2 linked regions of the Homo sapiens genome follow. The protein of the gene in region 2 interacts with the protein of the main gene of each other region in a biochemical or structural test. Each region holds a gene or a part of one and is shown on either strand. Other genes may lie near its edges.

Region 1 (4,355 bases), on a different chromosome or scaffold from region 2:
CATGAGCAGGTGGGACCCTTGACGTCTGACCTCATCCCAGCCTAGACCTGTCACCTCTGCCCCTTCAGTCTCTGATTTGAAAACACCTTACCTGGCTCATCCTTTGTTCTGGTCTGTGACCTCTGACCTGATCCCTTGACTGCCCCCAGCCTTGACATTCAACCCCAGCCCACAGCCTCCATGCCCCTTTCTAAGCTGCAGGCTAAGACCTATAACTTTCTCCCATGCACTCCTTCCTTTTCCAGGGCACTGTGCTGGCCAAGCAGGTGGGGGCTGTGTCCTATGTTGAGTGCTCCTCCCGGTCCTCTGAGCGCAGCGTCAGGGATGTCTTCCATGTGGCTACAGTGGCCTCCCTTGGCCGTGGCCATAGGCAGCTGCGCCGAACTGACTCACGCCGGGGAATGCAGCGATCCGCTCAGCTGTCAGGACGGCCAGACCGGGGGAATGAGGGCGAGATACACAAGGATCGAGCCAAAAGCTGCAACCTCATGTGAGGGGCTAGGAGAGGGCAGAGTGTGAAGAGGGGTGGTGAGGGACACAATTGTTCCCCTGCCTGCGCCCAGGCTTCCTGACCTCCTGATCCTGGCTGGGAAGTTAGGGCAGGCAGAGCGAGCAATTCTGGGCAGGGGAGCTGGAGGGCAGAAGGGTATCATCGTTTCTCATCTCCTCCTCCCTCCTCTTCTCCAGTGGATGTTGAGGGAGCTAACAGGGCTGGCATCTGGGGCATGAACTGGGATGGGGCAGGTGGGCGTTAGGGAAGCTGGTATCAAATGGTGACCTTGGTGGAGTCTCCTATGTGAAGAGTACCCTCCCTCTCCACCCCCAGTCCCCATATCCTGGTTCTGGCCCAAGGAAAATGTCCATTCTATGACCTTCTCTTTTCCTCTCCTCTCACTTCTGCAGCTATTCTCACACATCTAACCTCTAGGCAACATGCACTAAATTCAAAAGCAAGGAGAAGCCCTTGCCCCCCATCAGTCCACCAGCCCTAGAACCTCCCTTGCCTCAACAGTCACCTAATAAAGCCCACCTCCATGGAAAACGGCTGTGGCTTTAGTTTTGTTGCTTTTTAAAAAAATCAATCTACCAATCTTTAGCAGTAAGAGGGAAAGTTAGACCTCAGCTGGGGAACTTTCCTGTCCATGTCCACAGATAGAGCAGAGGACAAAGCCATAGGTTGGATCAGAAGTGTCCTTTTAGGAGTCAGAGTTGGGAGAAGGAGACATCCTGGGACTGTTCATCCTAGTTAATGAAGTGGGCAATTCTCAGGCCATTAGGGGGTTTTAGAGCAGACCGACATATAATTAGTCAGCATTTCTCAGCCCAGCCAGGCCTGCTGCTAGTGTGGGAGGGGTCCTGCTCACCATCTGTACCCCTGGCTTGGAGCCTGCTGGTACCCTGGGGGTTGTGGGGATAAGGAGGCATCAGGCCGGGCGCGCTGGCTCACGCCTGTAATCCCAGCACTTTGGGAGGCCGAGGTGGGCGGATCACAAGTTCAGGAGATCGAGACCATCCTGGCTAACACGGTGAAACCCCATCTCTACTAAAAATACAAAAAATTAGCCAGGCGCGGTGGCAGTGCCTGTAGTCCCAGCTGCTCGGGAGGCTGAGGCAGGAGAATGGTGTGAACCCGGGTGAACCTGGGAGGCGGAGCTTGCAGTGAGCCGAGATTGCGCCACTGCATTCTAGCCTGGATGACAGAGCAAGACTCTGTCTCCAAAAAAAAAAAAAAAAAAAAAAAAGAAGGCATCAAAAGCCTCCACATCACAGAAGCTACCCCTGTACAGCGTGAAGTTTCCTAAGAGGTCAGTAGTTTGATTCTGGGGTCTCCTTAGAGGCTCAGGCCAGGGACCTTTCTCTCCTCCCATGCTGAGTTTCATGATGGCTTTCAGGGGAGCATCAGCTGTTAGAGTCACCCCTACCCTGTCCCTTAAAGGAAAGACGGTGGAGAGGACGGCTGAGCGCCTGTTGTCAGGAAAGACAGTACTGGTCTGTTTTCTCGGGAGTCTGGTTTCAGATTGTCCTGTATTCCCTTCCTGGCTCTGGTCCCACTGGCCTCTTTTCGGTGACATTCTCCCCCAGGAACCATCCCTGGCCCTTCCCTCCCCCAGCCCTAGCCAGTTCTCCCAGACACACTGGAAGAGAACACTGACCTTACCCAACTATCTGCTGGGATCCCACCCAAATTTATAGCCCATTCCTCCCTCATTCATTCATTCAGCAAGTATGTACTGAACACCAACTGTGTGGCATACACTGGCTTGGGAGATTGCAAGGACCAGTCTCTAAGCTTTTGGAGGCCAGCCCAGTGTGGAAGAGAGGTACCTCAGGTGTGAGGGTGCCATGGCTGAGGGATATTTGTACATGTATGGGATGCTATGGGAGCTCCTTGCAGCCTGAGAAGCCAGTCCTGTGAGCCAGGTCCTGAGGGTTGAAGAGGAGTTTTCCGGGCAGGGAAGGGGTAGGAAAGGCACTCTGGGCAGAGGGTACAGCATGTGTAAACACGTGGAGATGAGAATGAGCATAGCACTGTTGGGGCTCCCATGGCAGGGAGAATAGAAGACAAGGCTAGGAAGGTACACTGAGGCTACTGCAGGGTCCACAGAGGAATCAGAATTTCATTCTGAGGATGAATGAAATCATCCTCAGAGGATGAAGCCACCAGGAATTTCAGGCAGAGAGTGAAGTGATCAGAGTTGTTTTTTGGATAGATGGTTATCTGGATGTGGTGTTGGAGCTGGGAGATTTGGCTCTGAGGTGTGTCATTTAAAATAATAGCTTCTCGGCAGTGGCTCACACCTATAATCCCAGCCAAGATTCCTCCTTTGGGAGGCCAAGCTGGGAGGATCGCTTGAGGCCAGGAGTTAGAGACTGCAGTGAGCTATGATCATGCCATTGTCTTCCAGCCTGAGTGTCAGAGTGAGACCCTGTCTCTAAAAAAAATTAAAAAATAAAAAATAAAAAATAGCTTCTCCTTTCCCTTATGCCAGGTTCCAGTCTTGAGAGGAAAGGAATCCCTACCCACCACTCCCTGGATCATCAGATATCCCTATCCCAACCTCTCCTATGGGACTAGTTCATCTCAGCCAGTCTCAAAGATTCTAGGATAACTTCAATGGCATTTGAAATTATCTAAGTGTGCTTGGATAACCACCCCCTCAAACTGAGACCTGGTTAGGGACTGACTCAAAGACCCTGAGTCCTCGGCTAAGGGTACAGGAGAGGGCAGGGGCTCCAGGCCCAGCTAGGTGGATCTCCATCTGTCTCTGAGGACTGACCCTTTCCCCACAAGGACCTGCCATAAAAATCGACTTGCGATTTTTAGCTGAGTGGCTTCTCTTTTCCACTTTGGACTTCTCAGTGTATAGCAGGTTCAAGCCTGCAACCACCAAAGTGCAGAGTGTGGAGTGTTTGTGCCCCCTCTTTCCTCCAACCTCCATATCCTGCCATGTGAGCTCAGGGAATGCAAATGCATTTAAATATCCATCTAAAGCAAACATAATTAGAAAAATCAATCAGCTGGAGGACCCCCCAAAGTTTAATACATTTTCAATACCACCAGGAATGGATTTTTGGTCCCTTTCTGCAGGTCTGGGTTGCCAGACGTTTTATTTCTGGGGAGGAGGGCTCTGGGCTGAGGAGCTCAGTGGGTGGGAGGAGGGAATGGGACTGTTGCTGATCCTCAAAGGCCTCTGTAGGATGGAGGGAGGGGACCTTACTCCCTTCCCCACCCCAGATGCAGGAGTCACCCAGCTTCCTTCTCTGCGCTGTTTCCTTCACAAATTAGACATTGGTTTGGGAAACAATGTAGCCTCGTTAAACATTTAATGAAATAAACAAATAATCACACTGTGATGGCTGCCAGAGTTTCTGTGTTTTTTTTTTTTTTTTTTTTTTTTTTTTGAGACGGAGTTTCACTCTGTCATTCAGGCTGGAGTGCAGTGGCACCATCTCGGCTCACTGCAACCTCTGCCTCCTGGGTTCAAGCGATTCTCCTGCCTCAGTCTCCTGAGTAGCTGGGACTACAGGCGCGCGCCACCATGCACAGCTAATTTTAGTGTTTTTTTTTTTTTTGAGACGGAGTTTCACTCTTATTGCCCAGGCTGGAGTGCACTGGCGCGATCTCGGCTCACGGCAACCTCACCTCCTGGGTTCAAGTGATTCTCCTGCCTCAGCTTCCTGAAGTAGCTGGGATTACAGCCATGTGCCACCATGCCCAGCTAATTTTGTATTTTTAGTAGAGATGGGGTTTCTCCATGTTGGTCAGGCTAGTCTTGAACTCCCGACCTAACGTGATCCACCCACCTCGGCCTCCCAAAGTGCTGGGATTACAGGCATGAGCCACCGTGCCCAGC
Region 2 (7,044 bases):
ACTTGAGTCTGAGCCTGAGGATGGCAGGACCCTGGGCGTGGGCATCGCCATGATGGGCAGGGCCTAGCAGAGCACGGGTGCTCAGACATTTCTGGAAAGCAGGATCCAACCCTGCTTTTAGTGGCCCAGCCACTCTGGGCCAGGCCCAGGGCTCAATGCTCCTGAGCTCAAGGGGTGCCCAGCATGGCTGGAAGGCAAACAAGCAAGCAGAAAGCAGCGGCCTGTGACGAGGGCCAAGGGAGTAGGTGCAAGGGCTCCAGGCATGCAGCCTCAAGGCAGGTTGGGGGTGGCTCCTAGCAAGGCTTCTTGGAGGAGGTAGGGGTGAGTGGGCACAGCTTGAGCCCAGCGATGAGTAGGCGGTGCTAGGGACAACAACAGCCACCATCTGCCAAACGCTTCCTCCAAGCCTCACAGCAGCCCTGTGAAGTGTGGAAACTTTTATCGTCCTCATTGTACAGAAGAGGAAGCTGAGGCCCATAGAGGCCCAGGGTTACAGAGCTCGGAAGTGCCCTCCAGTGCCCACCAGAGCGCAAGGCGAGGGGCATGTTGAGGGTTGGCTGGGTGCTAAGTAAGGGTCTTGGGAGTTGGGACAAAGAGCTTGGACTTGAGCTCCCTTCTCATTTTAATACACTCGTGGGCTCTCAAAGTTGGATGAGGCCTCAGAGGTGATCTCCCAGCATTGCCACTCTCCCTGGAAAAGGGACCCCAGTAAGCAGCCTCTCAAGAACCAATATTGAGAGGCAGCCTATGTGATCACTGAGCACTGAGGCTGAGTCACTTGGGCCCTGCAAGCTGCATGATCTGGGGCGTGACAGCTCATAAGGCCCAATTTCCTTATCTGTAAAACAGAAATGGTGATGCCTGCCTCCTGGCGCTTGGCACAGGGCTGTCATTTACAGACAGGTTCACCAGCTGGATCTTGCAGGCAGTACAGGGTTCTTACCATCTCCCCATTGCACAGAAAGGATGGCTGTGGCTCAAAGAGGAAGTGCCTTTCCATTTGAGTTCTGCTGCTAGCTCAGGGCAGACCTAGGACTTGCCCTCTGACCTTACTCCTGCTGTGTGACTCCCCAGCTGCACCTCTCTCCATCCACGGGTCAGGCCTCAGTTGAACCCTGGTGGGGTGGTGGGGGCTCACTGGCTTCACAAGGCCCTGCTGTGGTAGCTCTTCCCACCTCATTCTCTCAGTGCTGGTTTGCCCAGAGCTGTGGTTCCTTCTTCCTGGCCCCTGGTCTCATCTCCACTCTATCATATCCAGCATCTGCCTGGGCCACCTGCTTTTACTTCTTTAAGCCAGGGCCATTTTCTTGGCAAGCTTCTCTCTTCCCCTTCGTCGTTTCTTGGCATCCTCCCTGGTCTCACCCCATCCCATGTCAACCACCCATGTTCATCAGCCTGAAAAACCCCCGGCCCTGGGAGGCGGCAGGAGCATTGAATTAGGAGTTGGTGTATTTGGTGCTCTTCCTGGCTCTGTCTGGTCTGATCAGGCCATGTCATCTGACCTTTCTGGGCCTCACTTTCCCCATCTATAAAGAAGACAGAGCCCTGGTAACACAGCGAGACCCCATCTCTACAATTTTTTTTTAAATTAATTAGCAGGGTGTGGTGATGCCTGCCTGTGGTCCAAGCTACTTGGGAGGCTGAGGTGGGAGGATAAGTTGAACCCGGGAGGTCACGGTTGCAGTATCATGACTGTGCCGCTATACTCCAGCTTGGGTGACAGAGGGAGACCCTTTCTCGGAAAAAAAAAAAAAAGGGTTGAGGCAGGCATTGTATGAGATGATCTATTCTGCTATTGTTTTTAGGTTTGCCTATTTGTCCTTAAGGTAGTTGTTAAAAGAAAAGTGTCTTGGTATCATTCTGTTAGGCGAGTTTTTCCTGGGAATCTCAGGGACTATGTGGGGAGCCCCCGGAGGGGCTGGGGGCAGGTATAGCCCCTTCAATGGTAGGAAATATAGGGGAGAGGAGAAGGCCAGCTGGGGCCTACCATTTCACCTGCTGCAAAAGCAACAGGAAACACATCTGCACCTCCCTGGTACAGCCACTGCACCACTGAGAGGAAAGGAATTAGGTCCCCAGAGCCCTGACCCACATCCTGCCGCAGCCTGCTTGTCCTGTTGAAAAACAGCCTCTCTGAGGCCCCAAAAGTTATTGGTGTGTTGTAGGGCACACCCAAACAGATGACTTACTTGGGGGCCAGGTCCCATCAAAGATGACAGAACAGGCCCCTGGTCTGTACCCAGCCAGCATCTACCTGCCCTCCACCTTTCTGCTCTGTTGTCTGTCACGGCTGTCCCCACCGCTCCGTATTCTCCCCTGAAGCCAGAACACAGCTGTATGCGCCACACGTGTTTCAGAAGAGGAGGCCAGAGCTTTGTCAGCTTCTCAAAGGGGTCTGTGACCCAGAAATAGTTGCACAACCTAAGGTCTGTCCCATATCTGTTCTGGCCAGCAGCTGTCCCTACATCCTCCCTGAGAGCCATCTGTCCCTCTTCTGACCTCCCTCTCCTGATGGTGCAGATGGGTGGGGGAAACAGACTTGAGAGTCAGCCCCGGCTCCCTTCCCAGTTCCTCCTCTCACCAAGTGGCTTGGGACGAGTCATTTTTCATCTCTGTGGGCCTGTTTCCTCATGTGTAAAATGGAACTAAATAACCCCTGCCTCAGCCTGGCGTGGTGGCTCACACCTGTAATCCCAGCACTTTGGGATGCCAAGGCGGGCGGATCACCTGAGGTCAGGAGTTCGAGACCAGCCTGACCAATATGATGAAACCCCATCTCTACTAAAAATACAAAAATTAGCCGGGTGTGGTGGCTCATGCCTGTAATCCCAGCTACTCAGGAGGCTGAGATAGGAGAATCGCTTGAACCCAGGAGGCAAGGTTGCGGTGATCCAAGATTGTACCATTGCACTCCAGCCTGGACAACAAGAGTGAAACTCCATCTCAAATAAATAAAAATAATTACCCCTGCCTTAAGCCTCAGGGTTGGCGTAAGGACCATGTGTGCAAGGTGGAGTTGGGCACAGTAGCAAACATGGACAGGGTGCGTGTTCCAAGCTGGCTCTTAACATGGTTACTTCTTGGAGCCTTACAGCCATCCTAGGAGGCAGATACTACTGTCATCCATTCTAGAAGAGAATGCTGCAGCACAAGCATTAAATGACCTAAGGTCACACAGATAGAAGGGAGGAACTGGGATTTGAACCCAGAAGGCCTCGATCCAGAGCTGGGAGCTCTGCCCTGTACTTTTCAGCTGCCAACCCAGTGCCTGACACAGATCTGGGATCAGATCCTGCTTCTGCTGCTTACTACTGTGTTTCTCACAAGCCATGTAACTTTCTCTAACCCTCAGTTTCCTCATCTGAAAAAATGGAGGTGATTATAGCCTTTATAGATAGGCTTGATAAGAAGTGGGAATGGAATATGGATAGTAAACCCCTAGCACAAAATAAGTGCTCAATAAAAGACAGCTGCTGTTATTATCTAGCGTTGTCCTTTTCCCCAGGCAGTCAGTTAAGGAGACATTAAGACCACTGCCCAGCTTGGGAGGGAGCCACAGAGGCTAGGGCTGCTAGGGACATGACAGCCAAAAGGCGGCTCACAGGTGTCTGTCCTCTTTGCCAGGGGACTCATTGGCGCCCCCTGAGGTGGACTTTGACAGGCTGCTGGCCAGCCTGCAGGATCTTAGTGAGCTGGTGGTAGAGGGTGACACCCAAGTGACACCAGTGCCCGGCGGGGCACGGCTGCGTACCCTCGAGCCCATCCCGCTGAAGCTCTACCGGAATGGCATCATGATGTTCGACGGGCCCTTCCAGCCCTTCTACGATCCCTCCACACAGGTAGGAGCGGTGTTGGGGGGGGTGGTGCTCTAGTGCCCCTGCTGCCCACTGTTAGTTGGGGATGATGAAGCCAGCTCACCCCAGGCCCAGCCTGCCCTCCACGGGGCACCCAGGCCCACACACGACTTGCAGAGGCCCCTCTCCCAAGGCCTGGGACTCTGAATGTTTCCAGAGTGCGGCACTGGGTGACCCTGGATCTAGGGCCTGCCATCCAGACCAGTGGCAGGGCAGGGTGGGCCCAAGGCCCAGGCCACCCCCTCACTTTTCCTCTTCCCTTGCAGCGCTGCCTCCGAGACATATTGGATGGCTTCTTTCCCTCAGAGCTCCAGCGACTGTACCCCAATGGGGTCCCCTTTAAGGTGATAAGCTGCTCCTCAAACCACACCTTTGGGGATTTTGAAGGGAGTGGGGATACACAGCCTCCCCAGACACCTCCCATTCTGAGGGGAAGCCGCTGCACTCCCTGGGGGACCCCAGTCTGATGCCCTCCAGGAGGATAAGTCTGAAGCCGGGCTGGGAAGGGAGCGGAGAGGCCCGAAACAGAGCAGCAGGCAGCGCCCTCTGCTGGCACCCTGGAGACAGCCTCGGCTGCGGGGCCCCTGCCTTCTAGTCCTCCCCAGCTTTCAGGACACCTTGACAACCTGGGGTCCCTGCAGAAGTGGCCCGGCTGTCCCCCAAGTCTCCTGAAGCTATCTGGGTAGGGTGGGAGGCAGTGCTGTGAGCCACAAATGCAAAGCAGAGGGGACAGATGTTGGGACTCAAAGACATGAGGTAGAGCTGGCCCCATGGGTAGGTGCCACCACCAGAGCCCATGAGGCTTCGTGTTCTAGAAGGTGGTGGGTTAGTGCCGCACTGAGGGCGTGTCCGGGAGGGAGCATGTGTCACCAGGGCTCAGGAAACAGCATGAGTCATGACGCGGGGGTGTTTAAGGCATTCGTGCCACAGCGGGGACCTCGGAGCTATGCCTTGATAAGGCAAGTGAGGTTACATGTACGATGATGCGGTTTGTGCTGCAGACTGGAAAAAAGCAGGGGCTTTGTCCTCTCCTGACCCCCTCACACTCTGCCTTCACGGTAGGCTCCTGAGAGGGGGGTCTCCAAGGAGGGTGTCAGTACTGCAGCTTCAGCTGGCGTGGATGGGGTGCTTACAGGAGCAGCAGGGCTGAGGGAGATGACAGCAGTACGAACCGTGGCTCTCCTGAGGCCTGGGTTTCCTCATATGTAAAATGGGGGTTGCATTAGACCATACCCTTGGCCTGTGTTTAGGCAAATAGGGATGAAAGTGGGGCCAAGGGCTGAAGAGCTGGGTCCGCTGCCGTCGTTGCCCTTCTTTCTTGCCAGGTGAGTGACTTGCGCAATCAGGTCTACCTGGAGGATGGACTGGACCCCTTCCCAGGCGAGGGCCGTGTGGTGGGCAGGCAGCTGATGCACAAGGCCTTGGACAGGGTGGAGGAGCACCCAGGTGAGTTTGGCCTCCAGGCTGAGCCAGGGGGCTGGGGGACTGCAGAACAAACTCCAGGGGGGCTCCACCACCACTCATAGTCCTTCCTGGGCCCCGGTTCCCAACTCTGCCTGTAGGCTCCAGGATGACTGCTGAGAAATTTCTGAACAGGCTCCCCAAGTTTGTGATCCGGCAAGGCGAGGTGATTGACATCCGGGGCCCCATCAGGGACACCTTGCAGGTGAGGCCAATGCTAACTCCCCCAGCCCTCCTGGGGGAACTTTAGCACCAGCCCTGGTCCAGCCTGCCAGAACAGTGTCTTGTCAGAAGGCTCAAGCTTGAGGCACCTGATGAGTCCCTCAGAGCTGTTGCTCCACTGTCTCCTGGAAACTGTGAGGCTGGTGAGGGCACGGGCTGGGCCCCGGAAAGCAGGTGGGTTAGCTGTAAGAGGGCTAAAGTCAGAGTCCAGGCCAGGGGTGAGCCCAAGGCCCAGGCCACCCCATCAAGGTCTAGGCCAAAATATCCAACTCAGTACTGGGTACTCCCTTCGTGGTTGCCTCAGACTCTCCTTGGCCCTCATCATTCTGTCTCCTCGCTCCCTATTCTGCTTCTCCTCCTAGGTGTCCACCTGTGAAAGGCACCAAACCTTAGTTTCTCAGGCCTCCTCTGCCTCCCTCACCCACACATTGCTAAGTCCTGTCTGGTCTGTCCACCCCCAGAACTTCTCCCAGATGCATCCCTTCTCCACATTCCCACCACCCACCACCCTAGTCTAGGGTTCAGAGTGTCTCTCCCAGACAGCTGCCTCCCACTGCCACTCCTGCCCCTGCTGACCATCCTCCAGGCTGCCTTCCCTGTTGAAATGTTCCAGTGGTTCTTGAGATAAAGCCAGGTTCCTTATGCTGGCACTCAAGGCCCGTCCTATATTGCCAGGCCCCTCCTCACACCAACCTTTTCCTTCCAGTCCAATTGAGCCCCAGCTTCAGCCACACATAATGCTGGCAGTTGCCCAAATGTGTCGCCACCTCTAGGAAGCTTTCCCTGAACCCAGGATCTTTGTTGATGCTGTCTGGAATATCCCTGCATCCATTCCATTTCTAAGGACTCCCATTCATCCTTCAGTCACAGCTCAGTTGTCATTTTCCGAGGGAAGCCTTCCCTGACCCCAGGCTGGGGTGGGCTTCCAGCCTGATCATCGTCTGTGTGGGGTTCTGTCTCCATTAGACTGAAACGGGGGGTTACCTGGGGGGAACCATGGGGCTGCCTCCCAGAACCTTCTTCCCCTTCCATTGCCTCTCCTCTGGCCTTGGTTTATACAGAACACCCCCTCCCGCTTTGCTCACTGGTCTCATCTGTCCCTGGTCAAGGAAGTGTCCCTCTAAGGTTTGTGGGGATGACTCAAATGGGGCCTAGGGCTCTGTCCACCCTCCACTGATACCTTCCAGAACTGCTGCCCATTGCCTGCCCGGATCCAGGAGATTGTGGTGGAGACGCCCACCTTGGCCGCTGAGCGAGAGAGGTGAGGGCGGGATGAGGAGGTGAGGGCCTGGGGGCGTTGGGTCACCGCGTGCTGATGGCCTCTGGGCTGTGCAGGAGCCAGGAGTCACCCAACACGCCGGCACCCCCGCTCTCCATGCTGCGCATCAAGTCTGAGAATGGGGAACAGGCCTTCCTACTGATGATGCAGCCTGACAACACCATTGGGGACGTGCGAGCTCTGCTAGCGCAGGCCAGGTGGGTGCAGGGCAGGGCCAGGGCCACAGAG

Evidence for each region. Proteins that work in one complex are often made in the same cells at the same time.
Region 1: the proteins of UBXN11 (region 2) and RND2 form a complex in vitro, tested with the Homo sapiens proteins (one study listed by BioGRID).

What each region holds. Positions count from the first base shown.
Region 1 is NC_000017.11:43,028,187-43,032,541, forward strand, and holds the end of RND2 (rho-related GTP-binding protein RhoN), read left to right. Parts: coding exon 1-9; intron 10-245; coding exon 246-494; 3' UTR 495-903; coding exon of another isoform or gene 904-928; 3' UTR 929-3,855; downstream 3,856-4,355.
Region 2 is NC_000001.11:26,282,618-26,289,661, reverse strand, and holds part of UBXN11 (UBX domain-containing protein 11), read left to right. Parts: intron 1-3,624; coding exon 3,625-3,839; intron 3,840-4,120; coding exon 4,121-4,198; intron 4,199-5,179; coding exon 5,180-5,300; intron 5,301-5,416; coding exon 5,417-5,520; intron 5,521-6,724; coding exon 6,725-6,798; intron 6,799-6,872; coding exon 6,873-7,013; intron 7,014-7,044. UniProt on the Homo sapiens protein: May be involved in the reorganization of actin cytoskeleton mediated by RND1, RND2 and RND3. Promotes RHOA activation mediated by GNA12 and GNA13.